2 separate regions of the Homo sapiens genome follow, and region 1 is linked to region 2. Evidence: fine-mapped QTL for protein levels in blood plasma. A gene starts in region 2. The other region holds a variant in brackets. All regions are shown on one strand. Distances are between the middles of the regions. Region 1 overlaps FRZB (frizzled related protein). Region 2 holds the start of FRZB (frizzled related protein).

Evidence for each region. A credible set is the group of variants that fine-mapping cannot tell apart. PIP is the chance, under the fine-mapping model, that this variant and not a neighbour inherited with it causes the effect. The UK Biobank Pharma Proteomics Project read protein levels with antibody pairs (Olink). The fine-mapping took linkage between variants from a reference panel, not from the people measured, so its PIPs are less certain.
Region 1: its variant is the best candidate, but not a certain one, in a credible set for the plasma level of the FRZB protein (UK Biobank, PIP 0.87).

Annotation. Positions count from the first base shown.
Region 1 is chr2:182,829,447-182,837,739 of GRCh38, forward strand. FRZB (frizzled related protein) reads right to left here. Exons shown (of 6, transcript NM_001463.4): 6 at 3,829-5,519. The coding sequence ends at 5,403. Among named protein-coding and RNA genes, the nearest start is that of FRZB, 33 kb to the right of the region's middle. The variant C/T (reference allele first, on the strand shown) is at 6,709.
Region 2 is chr2:182,862,373-182,870,713 of GRCh38, forward strand. FRZB (frizzled related protein) reads right to left here and starts at 4,265. Exons shown (of 6, transcript NM_001463.4): 1 at 3,703-4,265. The coding sequence starts at 4,180. RefSeq lists an enhancer at 3,428-4,396.

The DNA of each region.
Region 1 (8,293 bases), 33 kb before region 2:
ACTTGAGTTTTAGGTCGTAGAGAAAGTTTTCCAATAGGAATTTTGTTCATATTGATCTCTCCTTTTGCCAAGTTGTCCCACAGTTCAACTCAAATTCTTCTTTTCAGTGCTAGGACAGGAATACCATCTCTGGGAAGCCATGATTCCCTCAGAATCACCAAAATAATGTAGAAATAAAGACATTAGAGTGAACTGCATCTGCTTTATTTATTGGATTTACCACCCAGTATAAACAAGAAATCCTTTGTTCCCTGTTTCATTGACTTCTTAACATCTCAGAGCTATCCTATGTTTCAGACATCACCCGACCCACCCTTGCTGAGGCCCCAGACTATCCTAAGTCCAACCCTGCAATCATAACATCAACCTCACATCGTGATGCTAAGTGTGTGGGGAGGGAGGTGGTGGCTGTTTGCAAGAGTGGCCACAGTACCACTGTGTAATGAGTGGGGTCATTCCCCTCCACATCCCTGTGGTGAGTAGAAAATTCTTTCCCGCATTTTCTTTCATTTCTGTGTCAGTTTCCTCAACAGCCCACAAATCCTTTTTTTTTTTTTTGGACAAATTTCCTTGAGCACAACCTTTCCTTCTTCATGGGACAACTCCTCAAGTTCTCAACAACCACCTAAGTAGAAACATGACAAACGTTTGCATTTCATCGGAAGAAAAACATATTTAGTTGTATTAACATGTTGAATCCCTGTCATAGTGAAAATACTTAATGAATGAAAAGCAGGGGGAATTAGGTCAGGTGGAATAGTTTTTCTAGATTATGGAGGACTCTGGTGGTGGGAAACATAGGGGGCATAATCTAAAAAGGAGAAATGGGAGTTCCCAGTGGAAGTAGTCGTTCTCGTTTTATTTGTAATAATTATCAACTTTTAATTTCAACTTTCTTCCAGGTGTTGTTGAATACAATTAACTGTTTACTTTTCTACAAATTCAAGGGAAAACAGAAACCTTGAAAAATGCTTTTCTGAGAGTCACACATTTTTAAACAACTAATGCCCCCAAAATTACTTAATTCACCTGCCTGTCTGTATGGAAATAATTCTACTGAAATTCTGATTTCATAAGGGAGGACACCTGAAGATGTGAAGTGACTGTATCTTGGATTAGAGTTGGGCCTATATTATATAGGCTTTCTAACATAGTTGGTAGACCTCAGTTTAAGAAATAATAGCTATTGTTATATTTATATTATTATTTATTATAATCCAATAATAGCAATAGCTACCACTATATGCCTGACACTATGCTTTTTCTTTTTTTACAGTGCTAGGATGCATTTACCTTTTTATCAGAAATTGCAGTGGTGGAAAACATATAATTTGGGAAATAAGATTATGAGGATCTAAGGCCCAGCTCTGCTACTTACACAACTCTGAAGTTCTAAATACTCATTTAAAAAAAAAAAATCTGTTATATGGGAATAAAACATCTACTTCAACAACTTTCAAGGAATAAGTGAGGTAACATATGCACAAGTGTTTCATATAGAGTTCCAGCCACTGTTAGATGTTATTACCCCAAACAGATAATTATGAAAGGTATGACTATACTGTTTTTGTTAATATTAATACATCTGGGTACCATACTTTTAAATTTTATAGGCTGGATTTCAGTAACACCATATTAGAAGTCTCTGCTTTATTTTTACCATCTTCTTGAATTTTTGTGTATTAAAATATGTTAAAACTCAGTGCTAAATGTCAATCTTGAAATACCTTTAGTCATTTTACTTGTTGAAATGTAACAGCAAATAATTTCTTGCAGAAGGCAATAGGTAGTGCTATTTGCTCACAGTGATTATAACTTTTGTTTTTGCCTTCTTAATGTGTAACACATGTGGAAAGACAGTTTGTCTCACCCCATCCCTGAATGCTGGGTGCAACATATGGCACTGAATCAGATTACATTGTATGTGACACAGTAAAATACATATCCATGAAAAGAGAATCCATGTTTGCTGCTATTTAAGTATTTGCTACTTTATTCAGCATGCATCTGACTTTAATTTGGCTAAGAAAATTAAAATCCTAAAGTTGAATAAAATTTTTTAAAGAAATATAAATTTTATCAATCTCAAGGTTACTGACAAGGATGCATGTATATTAAATTTTTAGTGGCTTTAAAAGTTACTATCTGCAAGAAAACCCTATAGAGAGGCATTAACGAGGTGTCTTTGTACTATGGCAACTAGAGTAGAAATGGTTTTGCAGTCTCCTGAGAAACGTGACCATCATGATAAATCACGCCATCCTCCCAAAAGAGGTCTGCACAGTTTATTAATGAAGATATTGTAGCTATCAAACTGAAAAACCAAATGTACTTTATTCATGGGCTTTATACCATTAGAAATGTTTAAACAGCTGACAGAAGCCTCATATAGGTGAGCAAAATCAAACATTGCCACTATAGATGGTAGTGGTAAAACAGTAGGTTGTAAAATGGCACCGAATGGAAGGTGGTTTAAAAAAAAAAAAAACTGCTGAATCTAAGAATCTGGCCGTGTTTTGTTTATATTAAGCATAAAGTGTGTCAAATTCCTACACAGAAACTGATCATACCCCCTTTACCCAACCCCCACCCCCCAAAAAAAACTGCAGAAGCTGGAAACATCTGCAGCTTTTATACATCAAAAGAGTTCCTTACTTAACATTGCTTACTGTGCATTGAGAGAGTTGAGGTTTGTGGATTTGAGATAACGGTTCCTTTAAACCTCTCCTGTAGTCAATTCTTGTCCTTCTTTACAGAGTTAACGTGAGAAAGCCTGAGGAAAACAGGCTGAGGCACCAGCACTACTTTCCACCCCTCTGTCCTCAGGCTCAAGTTGAGGCTTACATACCAGGAAGAGAGATTCTCAGGGGCAGTCCATCCACGGTGGCGCTTCATTACTCCCCAGTGACACCCAACTCACCTTTTAAGGGTAGGACATCAGCACCTCAAAAGAGATGTCCTTGCCATCTGAGAATATAGCAACAATGGGCAGATGGCAAGCCCTTTGGAAGTGGTCTTTTGGAAGCTCAAAAGACTATGCAGTCCTATAGGCAAAGGTGGGAATGTTTTCTTCTGGGGCTGGGGAAATTGTTGGCTTTGGAGAGTCAATCAGAAGGCAGGAATGTTCCCTTACTCTGTCACCTTTAAATATAGGGAGATAAATCTCCAAGTAAAGGGTTTATTTGGGAATATAAGAATTGGAATTGTAATTCTGGGCACACAAACCAGTGTAGCCTCTAGTTGTGTTCAAAGAACAAAGAGAAAGGCTGGGGTTTTATTGGGGAAGAGAGGAAGGTGATCTAAATGGTTTTGAATGAAAGTTCACTGGAGCCAGGCGCGTCTTGTAGGATCTAGCAAGTTCTGATTGGTGAGTGGCAGCAGCTAGGTAACTTTATCTTAAGGTTAGAGTTAGGTCTTCGTGATTTTTCTGTTGAACTGCAAAAATGGTTCCTGGAACAGGGACCTGGGTGCCTTTCCCCATGGCCTCCCGACTCCATTTTAGTTGGGTATGATATGAGTGACTCCAATTTGTAGAATGAACTTTCACACTTTTGTTGTTGTTACAGAGACAGGGTCATGCTCTATCGCCTACGCTGGAGTACAGTGGCCGCAATCATAGCTTACTGCAGCTTCAACCTCATGGGCTCTAGCCGTCTTCCTTCCTCAGCCTCCCAAGTAGTGGGGATTACAGGTGCACTCACCACACCCAGCTCACACTTTTAAAATAGAACATTTAGATAGATGATTATTTACCATTTTAGGAAACTTTTGTTCAGGAATGAATTTCATCCTTGCTTGATTATCCTTGTAGAAGGAAACATAGCACGATTTTTGCTTCATAAGCATTTTATTTTCAGCACGCCACAGCTTAGAAATTTGGTTCTACTAATAGCACACATGTAAATGGCAGAGAATGAAACTTTCAAGTAATTGGCACAGGCTCTAAGGAACTCTGCCAGAGGAAGGAAGTACAGATGCTCCGCCATTTACGATGGGGTTACATCTGGATAAACCCATTCGAAACTGAAAATATCGTAAGTTGAAATGCATTGGGTTACATCCTGATAAACCCATTGTAAGTCAACAAATTGTTAAATTGAAGCATTGTAAATTGAATCATTGTAAGCTAGGGACCATCTATAAAAGCATCATTTGTTCACCACAGCCCCTGGGATCTCACCACAGCTTGGGTAATGAGAAATGTGCAATTGGTTCAAAAGTCGAAATAACCTCTCTCCTGACAACCATAATTCATTTTACTAGACATTTTTCGCTGAGCATTAAGCAGCACAAATCCAAATGATAAAGTGCAGGCCAGTTTGCAGGCCTGTATTTTAATCCACCTTGGGTGTGAGTGCAAGGACACACATGTACACAAATACAGACACACACACAACAGAAAAAACAAAAACAAAAAAACCTGCATATTTTATCACTCTGTAATCTACAGCATTTTTATGGAGCCATGTACTTTTAAAAACTAACCCTGGTGCACGTGCATACATAATCTTTTCCTGGTCAATACGGCAATTCTGATTTATTTTAAAAGAAGAGAAAAAAAAAGACTTTCACCAATGGGTTTATTTAAAAGGAAGCAAATTAAACAAAACTATGGTGATAACAGCAGATGTCTAGTTATAATTCATTTCTCTAATGCTGATTAATATATTCATGAACAAATCAAATGTATTGCCAAAAGAAGAATGCTACCATTAACACCCCAGCGGCTACTGGTTTCAGTTGTGCTTCTCAATCAGGCAAAATGTTCTTTCTTAAGCTCCTATTTATTTTACTTCCTGACAGTCTCAAAAATAATTCATCTTGGGTGTTGTTTCCTCATAAACACTTCCTGGTGCTTGATTGCTTTGCCTATGTGACATTTGACTTCAAACTGCCATTTTACCTTTATAAACATTTGGAACTTTCTAAGCATGAGGAGAATGCCCAAAAGGCATACAAAAATAAGGCTGTAATTAGATCGGCAGAGTATGTTTTAAGGCATATCTAGCTTTCTGTGAATACCAGAAACCTCTCTTTTCATCCAATATTGCATTCCCAATTGGGGTGCAGAAAGTAAATTAACATCTGGAGACTCCAGCAAAGAGGCTCTGGTAACAGCATGTTTAATTTATTATTATTGCAAAAGAACAGTTTTTCTCATGATTAGTGAAATAGAAAACTCACAATATACTTAAGAGTCTGCCCCCAAACCATTACAAAGGGGTTGAGAGAAGAGAGAAGCAGAAACCAAAAGAGAAACAGAAGTAATAATCAGTTATCACATGATTTTTATAGTAAACAATAGAATATGATGTGCAATAGTGCAATTTTCCTTTGCTAGTCCAGCAATGCAAGTAAGTCTTAATAGGAAGTCCACTGTGTTACTTTTTGTATTTCGGGATTTAGTTGCGTGCTTGCCGGGGGTTCGAGTTCCTGCCAGACTTCTGACTCTGAGTGGAATCACTATTGCTAGAATCACTTTTACTGAGTCCAAGATGACGAAGCTTCATATCCCAGCGCTGTGAAATTTAAAATAGAAAATAGTCACAAGCACATATCACCAGGGTCATTATTTCCATGATTCTAACAACTGGGTCAGACTGCAAGTTCAGATCTCTGAAGCATTTTGCTACTTTTCCAAAAGTATCAATCTATTTCCCAGGGTAACAAGAAAACTGATGCAATATGAACATTATTCTCTGACTTTAACAAGCGCAACATCTATAATGTATTTAGTAATGCTTTCTTATCAAACCTTAAACTTAAAATGTCCATGTCTATAAATGATGACAGAAATATCTCCCTATATCTCTGGGTATTTCCTGAGGTAACATACAGGAGGCTAGTGCTTCACAGATACTCAACAAATGGAAGATTTACACACAGAATTTGAAGGGAAGGCTATTTTTCAACATCCTCTCTTAATACACATAAGAACATAGCCTTTTAAAGTCTATGTGATTTGAGCAGTGAAAAAAAAATGGAAATTTTTTTGAGGGATGGGGGGGTCTCAAAAATATTTTTCTAAGTAATATCCACTAAGTACAATGAATAAAACAGACAAGGTCCTGCCCTCGTTCTAAGTGTTACAAAGCAGGTATTAGCAATGTTTTTAATAAACACAATCAAGTTTAGTAATATTTCATATTAACAATGTCAATAATATTTTCATGTAATTTAAGTTAAATGGAAGTTATATTACATGAGGATAGGTAGGGAATACGAACTACAGCTGTACTTCCCAAACTTCAAACACGGATATCATATGGGGAATTTGTTAAAATTGCAAATTCTCATTTAGCAGGTCTGAGACAGGGCCGAAGATTTTCATTACTAACAAGCTCCCAGGTGATACCTATGTTGCTGATCCAGGGACCACACTTTAAAGAGCAAGCACCATCAGATCCTTGGGTCAGATGGCCCAAGTTCAAATTCTAACTCCACCACTTACTGTGTGAAGTTTCTTGAACTTACTAGACCTCATTTTCATCATGTATATGTTGGAACTGATAATAGAATCTACTTATAAGTAGATACATCTGAAGATTAATAAAAATATAAAGTGCTTAGCACATAGTAAATGTGTTATTGTTTTTCTGTTACTGAAGGTAATTCTTCATTTCAGTATTCTTTACTCCACAATCTTGTCTTCATATTTTAAAAACAGTCTGATTCTCAACTTCCCAAGGAAGTCCAAACATCTTGAAT[C/T]GTCTGCTATAAGAGACTTAGGTAAACAACCATTTGCATGAAAAAAACATAATAATGTTTCTTATAAAATTATTGATTCATCCACTGAGAGCAAAACTCAGCTAAGAGCAAATCTGATTGAAAAAATAACATCCTCCATAAAACTCTTTTTACACATCTTCAAATTGACTGGAAAACTAAAATAGGAATCTCAATAATTCTGGCCAAAGGAGATTTTCTACCCAAACTCTTTAGCCCTCAATATCTGCATATGAATTTAAAATTGTTCAAATTATTGGTTTCTTTCCTTTAGAATATTTAAATCCAGACTGAGAATATAAATGACTTTACAATAATAACTCTGCAAGTCCCCTGCGGAAAACAATGGGAAATATTGCAGAAAGCAATGGGAAACAGGACAAACAAGCCATGTGTCCTGTCAACAACACAATGATATTGTTTTGGTACCAAAAGAGGAGCAGTAAGCCTTGTTACATGCTTCGCAGCAGGGATATTGAAAGCTTTTCCAACTGGTACAGGAATTTAGGACAAATTCCAGTTCTGCATTAGCAAGCAGAAAACCAAATTAAAGACAGTAAGAGATTCCAACATACTGAACAAGAGCCACTTTTTTCTTTAATAAACACCAAACTAATTGAAGAGAGATGCAGAGAGAATGCCCGCAAGTCTGAACTTGAAATGCATCTCCCTTTTGACAAATCTACTAAAGGGGAGAAGAACTTACTGGAGGGTAGTTTCTCCTTACAAAATAATGCCCTCTACATTTTTGTAGGTCACTTAAACCCAAACGTGTCTGCCGTGTCAAGTGCCAGATGTATAAGATAAACCGCCCAGGGGTGTTTAACTTACCATGTAAATGTTTCCCAAGCCTTCAAACTTGCAGAAGGAAGAGGATGTATTATGTTTGGTACAGTTCCCACTCCCCCCACCCACCCACACATCCTTTGAGATTTTTTTGTCCCCCCATGCATTCCCCCACCCCATTCTTTTCTTTAAAACAGATTTGCTTAGTGCAGTAAGAAGAAACAAAACCTTCTATAATACAGTACTGTACTATGTGATTTTAAAAAATGTATCAATTCCACAATCTAAGAGTTATTTGGCTTAAAAATAAGGCTACATTACTGCTCTAAGGACCTAATTTATTCAGATCTCTTCTATACAGATGAATGTAGCTACACTTTGTACATAGGAATTGCTGTTTATTCATCGGACATCATTGTTTATTTTCCTTCCCATCATTTATTCTCCCCTTCTCACAAACTGCAGTTTGTTCAAAGAAGCAATATCCCCAGGTTTAAAAAGACTACATTTTCTAGCCTGTTTTGCAGCTAAGTAAAAACTGCTTGATGAGGCTCTTGGAAATCCCTTTTACCTCCTCTTTTTCCTGCCTGAAATGTACATGTGATACTAGAGGCAGAGCAGCCATCTTGTGACCTCCAGGTGAACATGAGTATGAAAGCGATGCCTTTAAAAATGGTAGAGTGATAAGCTAGAAGGAGCCTGACAACATGAAACCACCCTACCAGGACTGGACTACAGCTAGACTCCTTGTGAAGAGACATTAGGGCAACTGTAGTTAGAT
Region 2 (8,341 bases):
ATTCCTGGGTTTCTGAGATGAATTATTTGTAATTAACTCCTCCACCAGACTCATTCTTTTTTCTGTCGCTCCCAAGGGGATCTGCTCTTGAGCCTGAGGTCTAGGTCAATTTGTGTAAAAGGAAATACTAACTTTATATATTTAGAAGAAATAAGATTTGTTTTTCCAGTTAGGTCCCAGTGTAAAGCTTTTTTGTTTTGTTTTTCCCCAGAGATGAACTAATAAAAGTTCTAGGCTGCATCTGCATTTACCAACATAACCATTTCAAAAACAAAATAGAAAATGTTAGTCAATTTGTTTTAACAGTGATAATAGTAAAACAGCAGCAGCACTTTTTTCAGTGCTTACTAAGTACTAAAGCAATGCTTTATATGCTGTTTAATTTCTTTTCTTTTCTTTTCTTTTTTTTTTTTTGAAACACAGTCTGGCTCTGTCGCTCAGTCTGGAGTGCAGTGGCGCCATCTCAGGTCACTGCAACCTCCACCTCCGGAGTTCAAGTGAGTCCCTTGCCTCAGTTTCCTGGAGTAGCTGGGACGACAGGCACGCACCACCATCCCAGGCTAATTTTTGTATTTTTAGTAGAGACAGGGTTTCACCATGTTGGCCAAGCTGGTCTCCAACTCCTGACCTCAAGTGATCCACCCGCCTCGGCCTTCCAAAGTGCTGAGATTACAGGAGTGAGCCACTGCACCAGCTTTAATTTCATCTTTACCATGCCCTTGGGATGTAGATAGTTTTGTCCTAATTTTACAGATAAGAAAACTTTGAATTACAGAGGTCATATAATTTTCCTATAACAATAGTTGATGTCGGGGCAGAGTCATTCACACCTGGTCTGCCCCACTCCAAGCCTATCCTCTTTACTCACCACACAATATTAAAGATTTGACTGAATGTCATCACTAACTTGCTGAATGACTCAATTGAGCTGAGTTTTCAGATAATCAGTTGTACATGTAGTCACACAAAGTTATGCAAATATAAAATGTGTAAGATGAATAATAATGGTCAGGATGGAACCCGTTCTTTTCAAAAATATGATTACCCTTAGTATTTTGAAAGCAAAAAGTAGTTTCAAGCATTACTCCATTTCAGTAAGACTGCTTTGTAAAAGGTCCTAAGCTTGTTTGTGGAGTCATGATATACTATGAGAGAACAGATCCCCATGAATGGGTAGGATTTGAAAATCCTCTTGGCATCAGAAGAATGTGAAAGATTGTCCTATTTTATTCAGGGAGACCTCATTTTTATATCTAGTTGGACAGATACTAGTCAAAAGACACAGGGATTCTGTTTATACCCAGTTGAATAAGAAAAAAACCTTGCTTTGTGAACTATCACTTCCCACTGAACCAAAGAGTATATTGGATATTGCATGGTAAATTACACTGGCCACATGTGGTAGTTCCTAAGTAATTCCAGGTGTCTGACAGTTTGACCCAGCATAGGGAATGTAATTTTCAACAAGCTGGCCCTGGAAGCCAGGAGACCCTTCAGGCTACAATCTACACACTTCATTCCCAATTTCCACCTCCCCCCACCTTTGAGCTCCCCTTGCCATCATAGCCTCTGGTTCACACTGAAGCTTATGGAAGGGAGCAGGGATGCCATCACTAACTATGATTCCAACTACCACCTATTTTTCTAGCAAGGATGCTGCCAGTAAAGCAAATACTCTGGCATTTTAAAGAAGCTTAGAAATCAGGTCCCATGAACTGACAAATTGTTTCCATGCATGTCCTATTTGAGTGCTTCAATGAGGCAACTGTTTCCATGTTTGTTCCACAGTGATTGGTAACTCAGGGACACTTAATGAAACTGCTTCCTATCCATATTGACTATGGCTTTTTGAGAGCCATTAACCTTGCCAAACCTCACTCACTCTAGGTCCACCTCTAAGGGAGGTTTAAGAGCAAGTTTTGTGCTTTACGGGGAGGAATGCATTTCAGCCTGAACCACTGCCACCTCATTCCTAGCCCTTGGCCTGAGAGGAGCACCTGCATTTAACTGATTCTAAGTGCCTGGCAAACCAGAGCGGCAACTGCACTGAGCACTTCCAGACTCTGCAGTCTGTGACTTTAGTGAGTACGAAGCCTCAAGCATGCTCTTTTAGCAAAGATTAATAGCAAATACATTTCTGTGATGATTTTGCACAACTAGCTTTTGGTTCTTGATTAAAATCAAGAAGACAATAGGTATATTCAAAAAGTGATAAACTAAGTGAGGTCACCATTAAAAAGTTCTTGAAATTCTTCTGTTTATTTTTTTTCCTTCAGCTATTTTTACAATTACTTCTCCTTCTCTCACTTTGTTAAATGAGTCAACGTGCACAGAAGGTAATTTTTCCAAATCAATTTCCCGATAACTAAGAATTACTACCTGGAAATGGACTGGGGACATGCGCCTAGACTGCGCAAGTTGAAAGAGGAAGGAAAGTTGATGCCCAAGAAATAAACAGATGGAGGCAACCAAGTCAACACATCTAAGAACAGAGTTGTTGGGGGGTGGGGGATGTGGTATGAAAGAGGACCACTCATGAAAAAAAATTGCCTTCTTTATAAAATATATGAAGGGTAAAATTTGAGGTTGGGTTAGTTGGTAGAAGTAATACTGAGTTAGAATTAAATGGACCATAATGAAGTAGGTTTAGTTGGGGTCTTAAAGTTACAAATGTCATAATTAGACTAAACACTAGTGAGAAAACAACTTGTGATTGACTCCATTAAATTTAGAGCTGCAATAAAGTTTTATGGTAGGGAAAGACTGAAATGACTGTGGTTGGTGCACACACGGAAAAGGAGCATGAAATAAGGTATTAAAGACAATTTTTTTTTCAAAACATGAGAGTGGAATAAGGGGTGAGATTTAAAATAACATTACGTGAGTGTATGATAACACGCCTTAAATATAACTCCTTTCATCTGTATGCCACTTATAAAATGACTTGAAGGCATGTGGGCATGTGAAAAGAGCTCAGTAATTTCAGTCTGCCAGCTCTATGGCAAGCCACAGAAGCTAATTAACAGTGCATAGCAATGTTTCACAATTGTTTCATTCTGGAATGGAAGAACAATTTATCTCATTGAAAGGAGGGGGAAATTTAAGGTGAAGGTAATTGCTCAAACTGGATCTTGAGCAAACACATACCCCTAACATCTGTCGGTTAGAGTAAGGTTATTGAAATTATCTTGGCATTTTTAATTAGAAGAAAATGGGGCTTCAGTTTTCTGTTTCCTCCACACAATCTTAACAAGCATCTAAGACACTAAAGATACAGAAACCTGATGACTGAGATTGCCTGAGAATCAGCAAAGAAAACCCAATGATTATAAACACATTTTAAAAGAAAAAGAGCATCACTTTACAAAATGTGGCTACTTGCACATGTAAGGAGTTGAAGTGAAGGATTCCTGTGGAGTAGAAGTGTGATGGGTTTGGAATGCATGGATTGTTTTAGAAAGATCGCCTATTGGAACACAGTGCCAGAGTGCATCAGTTTGGAAGGTGATAAGGTGAGGGTTTTTTTGTTTTTGTTTTTGAAAAAAGAAGAAAGAAGAAGAAGGGTCTTTGATAGAGGAGCAGTTATGGGAGAGATTAAGTGATCCGAAGAGAAAAAAATTAGAGAGTAAAGGCTAGTAACAAGGACTCCAAGAATTGAGGAGGCTGTAGGGTAAGGGAAGGGTGGGCCGTGTCAAAACTCACCAGCTCCGTCCGCAGTAACGATGGCCTCGGGAGAGATGCACACGCCCCTGTCGTACACTGGCAGCTCCTCGCAGGCCAGGTTCTCCGGCCACGAGTGGCGGTACTTGATGAGTATGGGCTCACAGCCCTGCCGGGCCCGCTCGCACACAGACTTACAGGGCTTGATGGGCTCGTGCTGGAAGTCAATGGTGCAGATGGGCGCGTACATGGCACAGAGGAAGAAGAGCAGATCGGGGCTGCAGTGGGTGCCCAGCAGACCTTCGAACTGCTCGATGGCCAGGATGGCGTTGGCCTGAGTGCTGTGGTGCAGGTGGTTGGGCATCTTAGTCATGTTCCAGGGCAGGGACTTGCACAGGGGGATGCGGACGGGCTCACAGGCTGCAGCCCGAGCCCCGGGCACCCGGAGCAGGCAGAGAGCAGCCAGGGCAAGCAGCCCGGCCCGCAGCAGCAGCATCCCTCCCGGGCTGCCGCAGACCATGATCCCGGCAGGATGGGGCAGGGTGCAGCCGCGCAGTGGACGCCAAAAGGCCCGCTCCGCCGTCTCCGCCTCCCCCGCTGCAAGTGGACACAAGGATCTGGGAGCTTCTCCTCCCCCGGCAATCACCGCTTCCTTGGATCAAATTCCCCCAATGGGGTCCCACGAGCTTTACCGAGCTCCAGCCACCGCCCCTGCCGCCCAGGCTGCTCTTTCCCAACGTCTAAGCCTTCGGAAGCAGCAACATCTATTTATTCCTCTCCCTCTGGCAGAAGCATCAGACTTCGCAGATCAGTCAGATAAGAGGGACACGAGAGGAGGCGAGGAAGACATAAAAACAAAAGTAGAATTCAGCTGAGAGCTAGTTGGAGCTCTGGGGTGTCTCCTCCCCTAGATCACGCACACAAAAAGATGCTAAAGAAAGCATTAAATTCCCCAAAGTGAGGAGGACAGAGGGGTTGGGGGGAAGGAGGGAGGAAAAGCTCCTAATGGGAGAGAAGGGTGCAGTAAGAGTTTACAAGTCCTGTGTGGGCTAAGAGCTGCGGCCGCCGCTGCGGCTGCGACCCTGGCTGGCAGGAGGGACGCTCAGGAGGAGCCCCGCAGGGACGTCTGTGCCTCTGCCCGGGCGGCTCTGCACTTTCCTACCTCCCGCCTGAGAGGGAGCTCCGCCCCTGGGGCAGTCTCTGCCCTCCAGTGCCGGCTGCTCTTCCCGAGAATGGAGTGGGCGCCCGGGGAAGAGAAGGCCTGGGAGTCGCAGGCGGTGGGGTGCGAAGCCGTGCGAGTGCGAGACCCCAAGACAGCGCCGAGTCGAGCGCGCCCTCACACTAGGGAACCCGTCTTTGGCCCCAGAAACGAGCCCCTAGCCCCTCACTGAAGAGCCCACCCCAATTCCCTACGGAAAAGTCCCCCTAGTTCCCCACTTGGGAACCCACCCGAGACCCTCCTTCCTGGAGGTATTTCCTTTAAGCAAACTACAGCTTTTCCTCTGCAATCACTGGCTCTGCAGAAAGTCAGACCTGGTGGGGGGAAAGGCTTAAGCAATGTCACTTTGTCCAAGTAGCGGAAAACACAGACCCCTGCGAGCAACGGTGGAGCCATATCAACCCAGAGCTAGTGACTACAGAGGTCTCCATTTTCAATAACTGCGGGGGAGGAGGTGGGGGGAGGATTGCCTTTAAAAAAAAAAAAAAAGAGAGAGAGAAACAAAGAAATGCTGTTCATGACTACAAATAGGCCACCAGAAGCAAGGAAAAGGGGTTTTTTCCTTCTATTCCCGCCCCCCCCACCTAGTGGAATTAGAACTCTTGAGCTTTGCTCCTTAAGGGTTAACGTGGAAACTAACAGCTCTAATACACTTGGACTTTTTTTTTCTGATTTTGCTCACGGATAACATGGCAGATATTATTTGTTATTCTCAGCAACAATTCTGCCCGACACTTAAAAAAAAAGTGTAGGAAAACGACATCACGCAGGTAATAATGATGATTATAACAACAATCAAAACCTTTCCATCCAGATGAGTTCAATCTGGAGGAGAAAATGGAAAACAGATCCCCTCCTGGTCTGCTTCTTCCACTAATGAGCTCCCTCTTCCCCCCACCCCCGCCCCACTCTACCCTTTCAGCTTATATTGTAAATGGAATGACCTGCAGAGGCCTTCACACTATGCCCTCTCAATGGGAAATCACTGAGCAAAAGGATTGCCGAATGTCAGAAAACACAGCCTTCATTGAGAGGAGAAGGAAACAAAACCTGAAACAAAACAGGAAGTCACCTTTGCTCTGCATCACTGAAATATTTCTCTGCTTCAATTTAGCCATCTCTCACCGTCCATAACAAGCAGAGAAATATGTCCCCACTTCAGAGCACATAGTGAGATGCTCATTTTCATTCCCTAGAGTGACTTGACAGCACTTATAAAATGTCAATGCTAACTTGAGTTATGGAATTTTATATCTAAAATGATCATAAACAGCAGTTTGTGACTGCTGTAAATTTTTTTGGAAGGAAGTTTGTTCCACTTATGGTGGCGGGGGCGGGGAACACCAGATGGTAGACAGGGAGTCAGTTAGTATACAAACTTTGCCTGGTCTACAATTATCTAGTGTCATGTAAGAGAACAAATTCAAAAATTGTACAAACGAATTTAAAATGATTTATCAAGTAAAATTTAGAGGAAAAACAACTTTAAAAGACAGTCAACATTAGAACATTTTGGGACTATTTTGTATAAGAAAAATATAGCTGAGATTTTCAATAATTAGAAGAAAAAACATCAGGAGTAGATGTAGTAGATTGTTTGCTAAATACATTTTTCTGTTCATCTTAAGTCTTACAGTGTGAGAAGAAATGTGCCAATAGTTTTAAAGGTTCTACAACTATTTGAAACAAAGTCTGTTTTCCTTCCCCTGCACAAAAGTCAGCTATCTTCTTTGTCTAATAGGTCCCCTTACAACTTTAATCCAAATTTGTTTTTATAAAAGCCCAAAATAAATGTCACTGTCTTGAGGAAGCCCTTTTGAGTACCTTGTCTAGTTGTGTTCATTTTTCTGGTTAGTTACCCTTGAACAGTGTTTGTTTTTACAAATTATTCCTTTATTTATTTATTTATTTATTTTGAGATGGAGTTTTGCTCTTGTTGCCCAGGCTGGAGTGCAGTGGCACTATCTTGGCTCACTGCAACCTCCACCTCCCGGGTTCAAGAGATTCTCCTGCCTCAGCCTCCCTAGTAGACTCACAAGCTCCCCACTTGTGAGTCTCCAAAGTCTGTTATACCTCTCAAAGATATGCCTTCTTGTACCCATAGCTTTGCTCTCATTTATAAGTGAGAACATACAGTATTTCATTTTCCATTCCTGAGTTAAATCACCTAGTATAATGGCCTCCAGCTCCACCCAAACTGCTGCAAAATACATTATTTCATTCTTTCTTCTGGCTGGGTAGTATTCCGTGGTGTATATATACCACATTTTCTTTATCCACTCATCATTTGATGGACATGGACACTTAGTTTAGTTCCATATTTTTGGTTGATGGGCACTTAGTTTGGTTCTATATCTTTGCAATTGTGAATTGTGTTGCAATAAACATATGCATGCAGTTGTCCTTCTGACAAATTGATGTCTTTTCACTTGGGTAGATACCCAGTAATGGGATTGCTGTATCAAACTGTAGGTCCAGTTTCGTTCTTTGAGAAATCTTCACACTGTTTTTCATAAAGGTTGTACTAATTTACATTTCCACCAGCAGTGTATAAGCATTCCCTTTCACCACATCCACACCAACATCTATTGTTTTTGTTTTGCTGAGACGGAATCTTGCTCTGTCTCCAGCCTGGAGTGCAGCGATGTGATCTCAGCTCACTGCAACCTCCACCTCCCAGGTTCAAGTGATTCTGCTGCCTCAGCCTCCCGAGTAGCTGAGACTATAGGCACGCACCACCCTGCCCAGCTAATTTTTGTATTTTTAGTAGAGACAGGGCTCACTATGTTGGCCAGGCTGGTCTCGAACCCCTGACCTCACTCAGGTGATCCAACCACCTTGGCCTCTCAAAGTGCTGGAATTACAGGTGTGAGCCACTGAGCCCAGCCAAGTTTTGCCATATTTCCCAGGCTGGTCTCAAACTCCTGGGCTCAAATGATCTGCCCACCTTGTCTCAAATGATCTGCCCACTTACAGGTGTGAGCCCCCACCAAATTATTAATATACTAATACTCTGCTGGAAACAAAAAATCTATGGACACCAGATTCAAGGACTTCAAAGGGCTCCACACAATGCATATCCAGGTTATGATATGCATTGGTTATGATAGCCAGAGGACACCTGGCTGTCTGAGAGCTGCAGCATAGCGCCCCCTAGCACCTAGTTGGGACTATGGGTTAATTCCAGGCTCAACCACTGCTTAGGAAGTGCACCCAGACCCAGTGATGGCCAGTCAAGCTTCTTAGGATGAGTAATGATACCATGATCATTGACATTTGGTTTAACTTCCTGACAGGTAGGTGTTCCTGTGGCAATGTCAAGAAAAAGATCATGCTAGAGTATATTACTTTGATATAGCCATATTACCAAAATTCAAATTTGGCCAATTTCCCCCTCCCTGCCCCAATTTTGCAATGTCTTATTTTGTCAGTAATTTGAATATTCACATTATTTTTTCATCT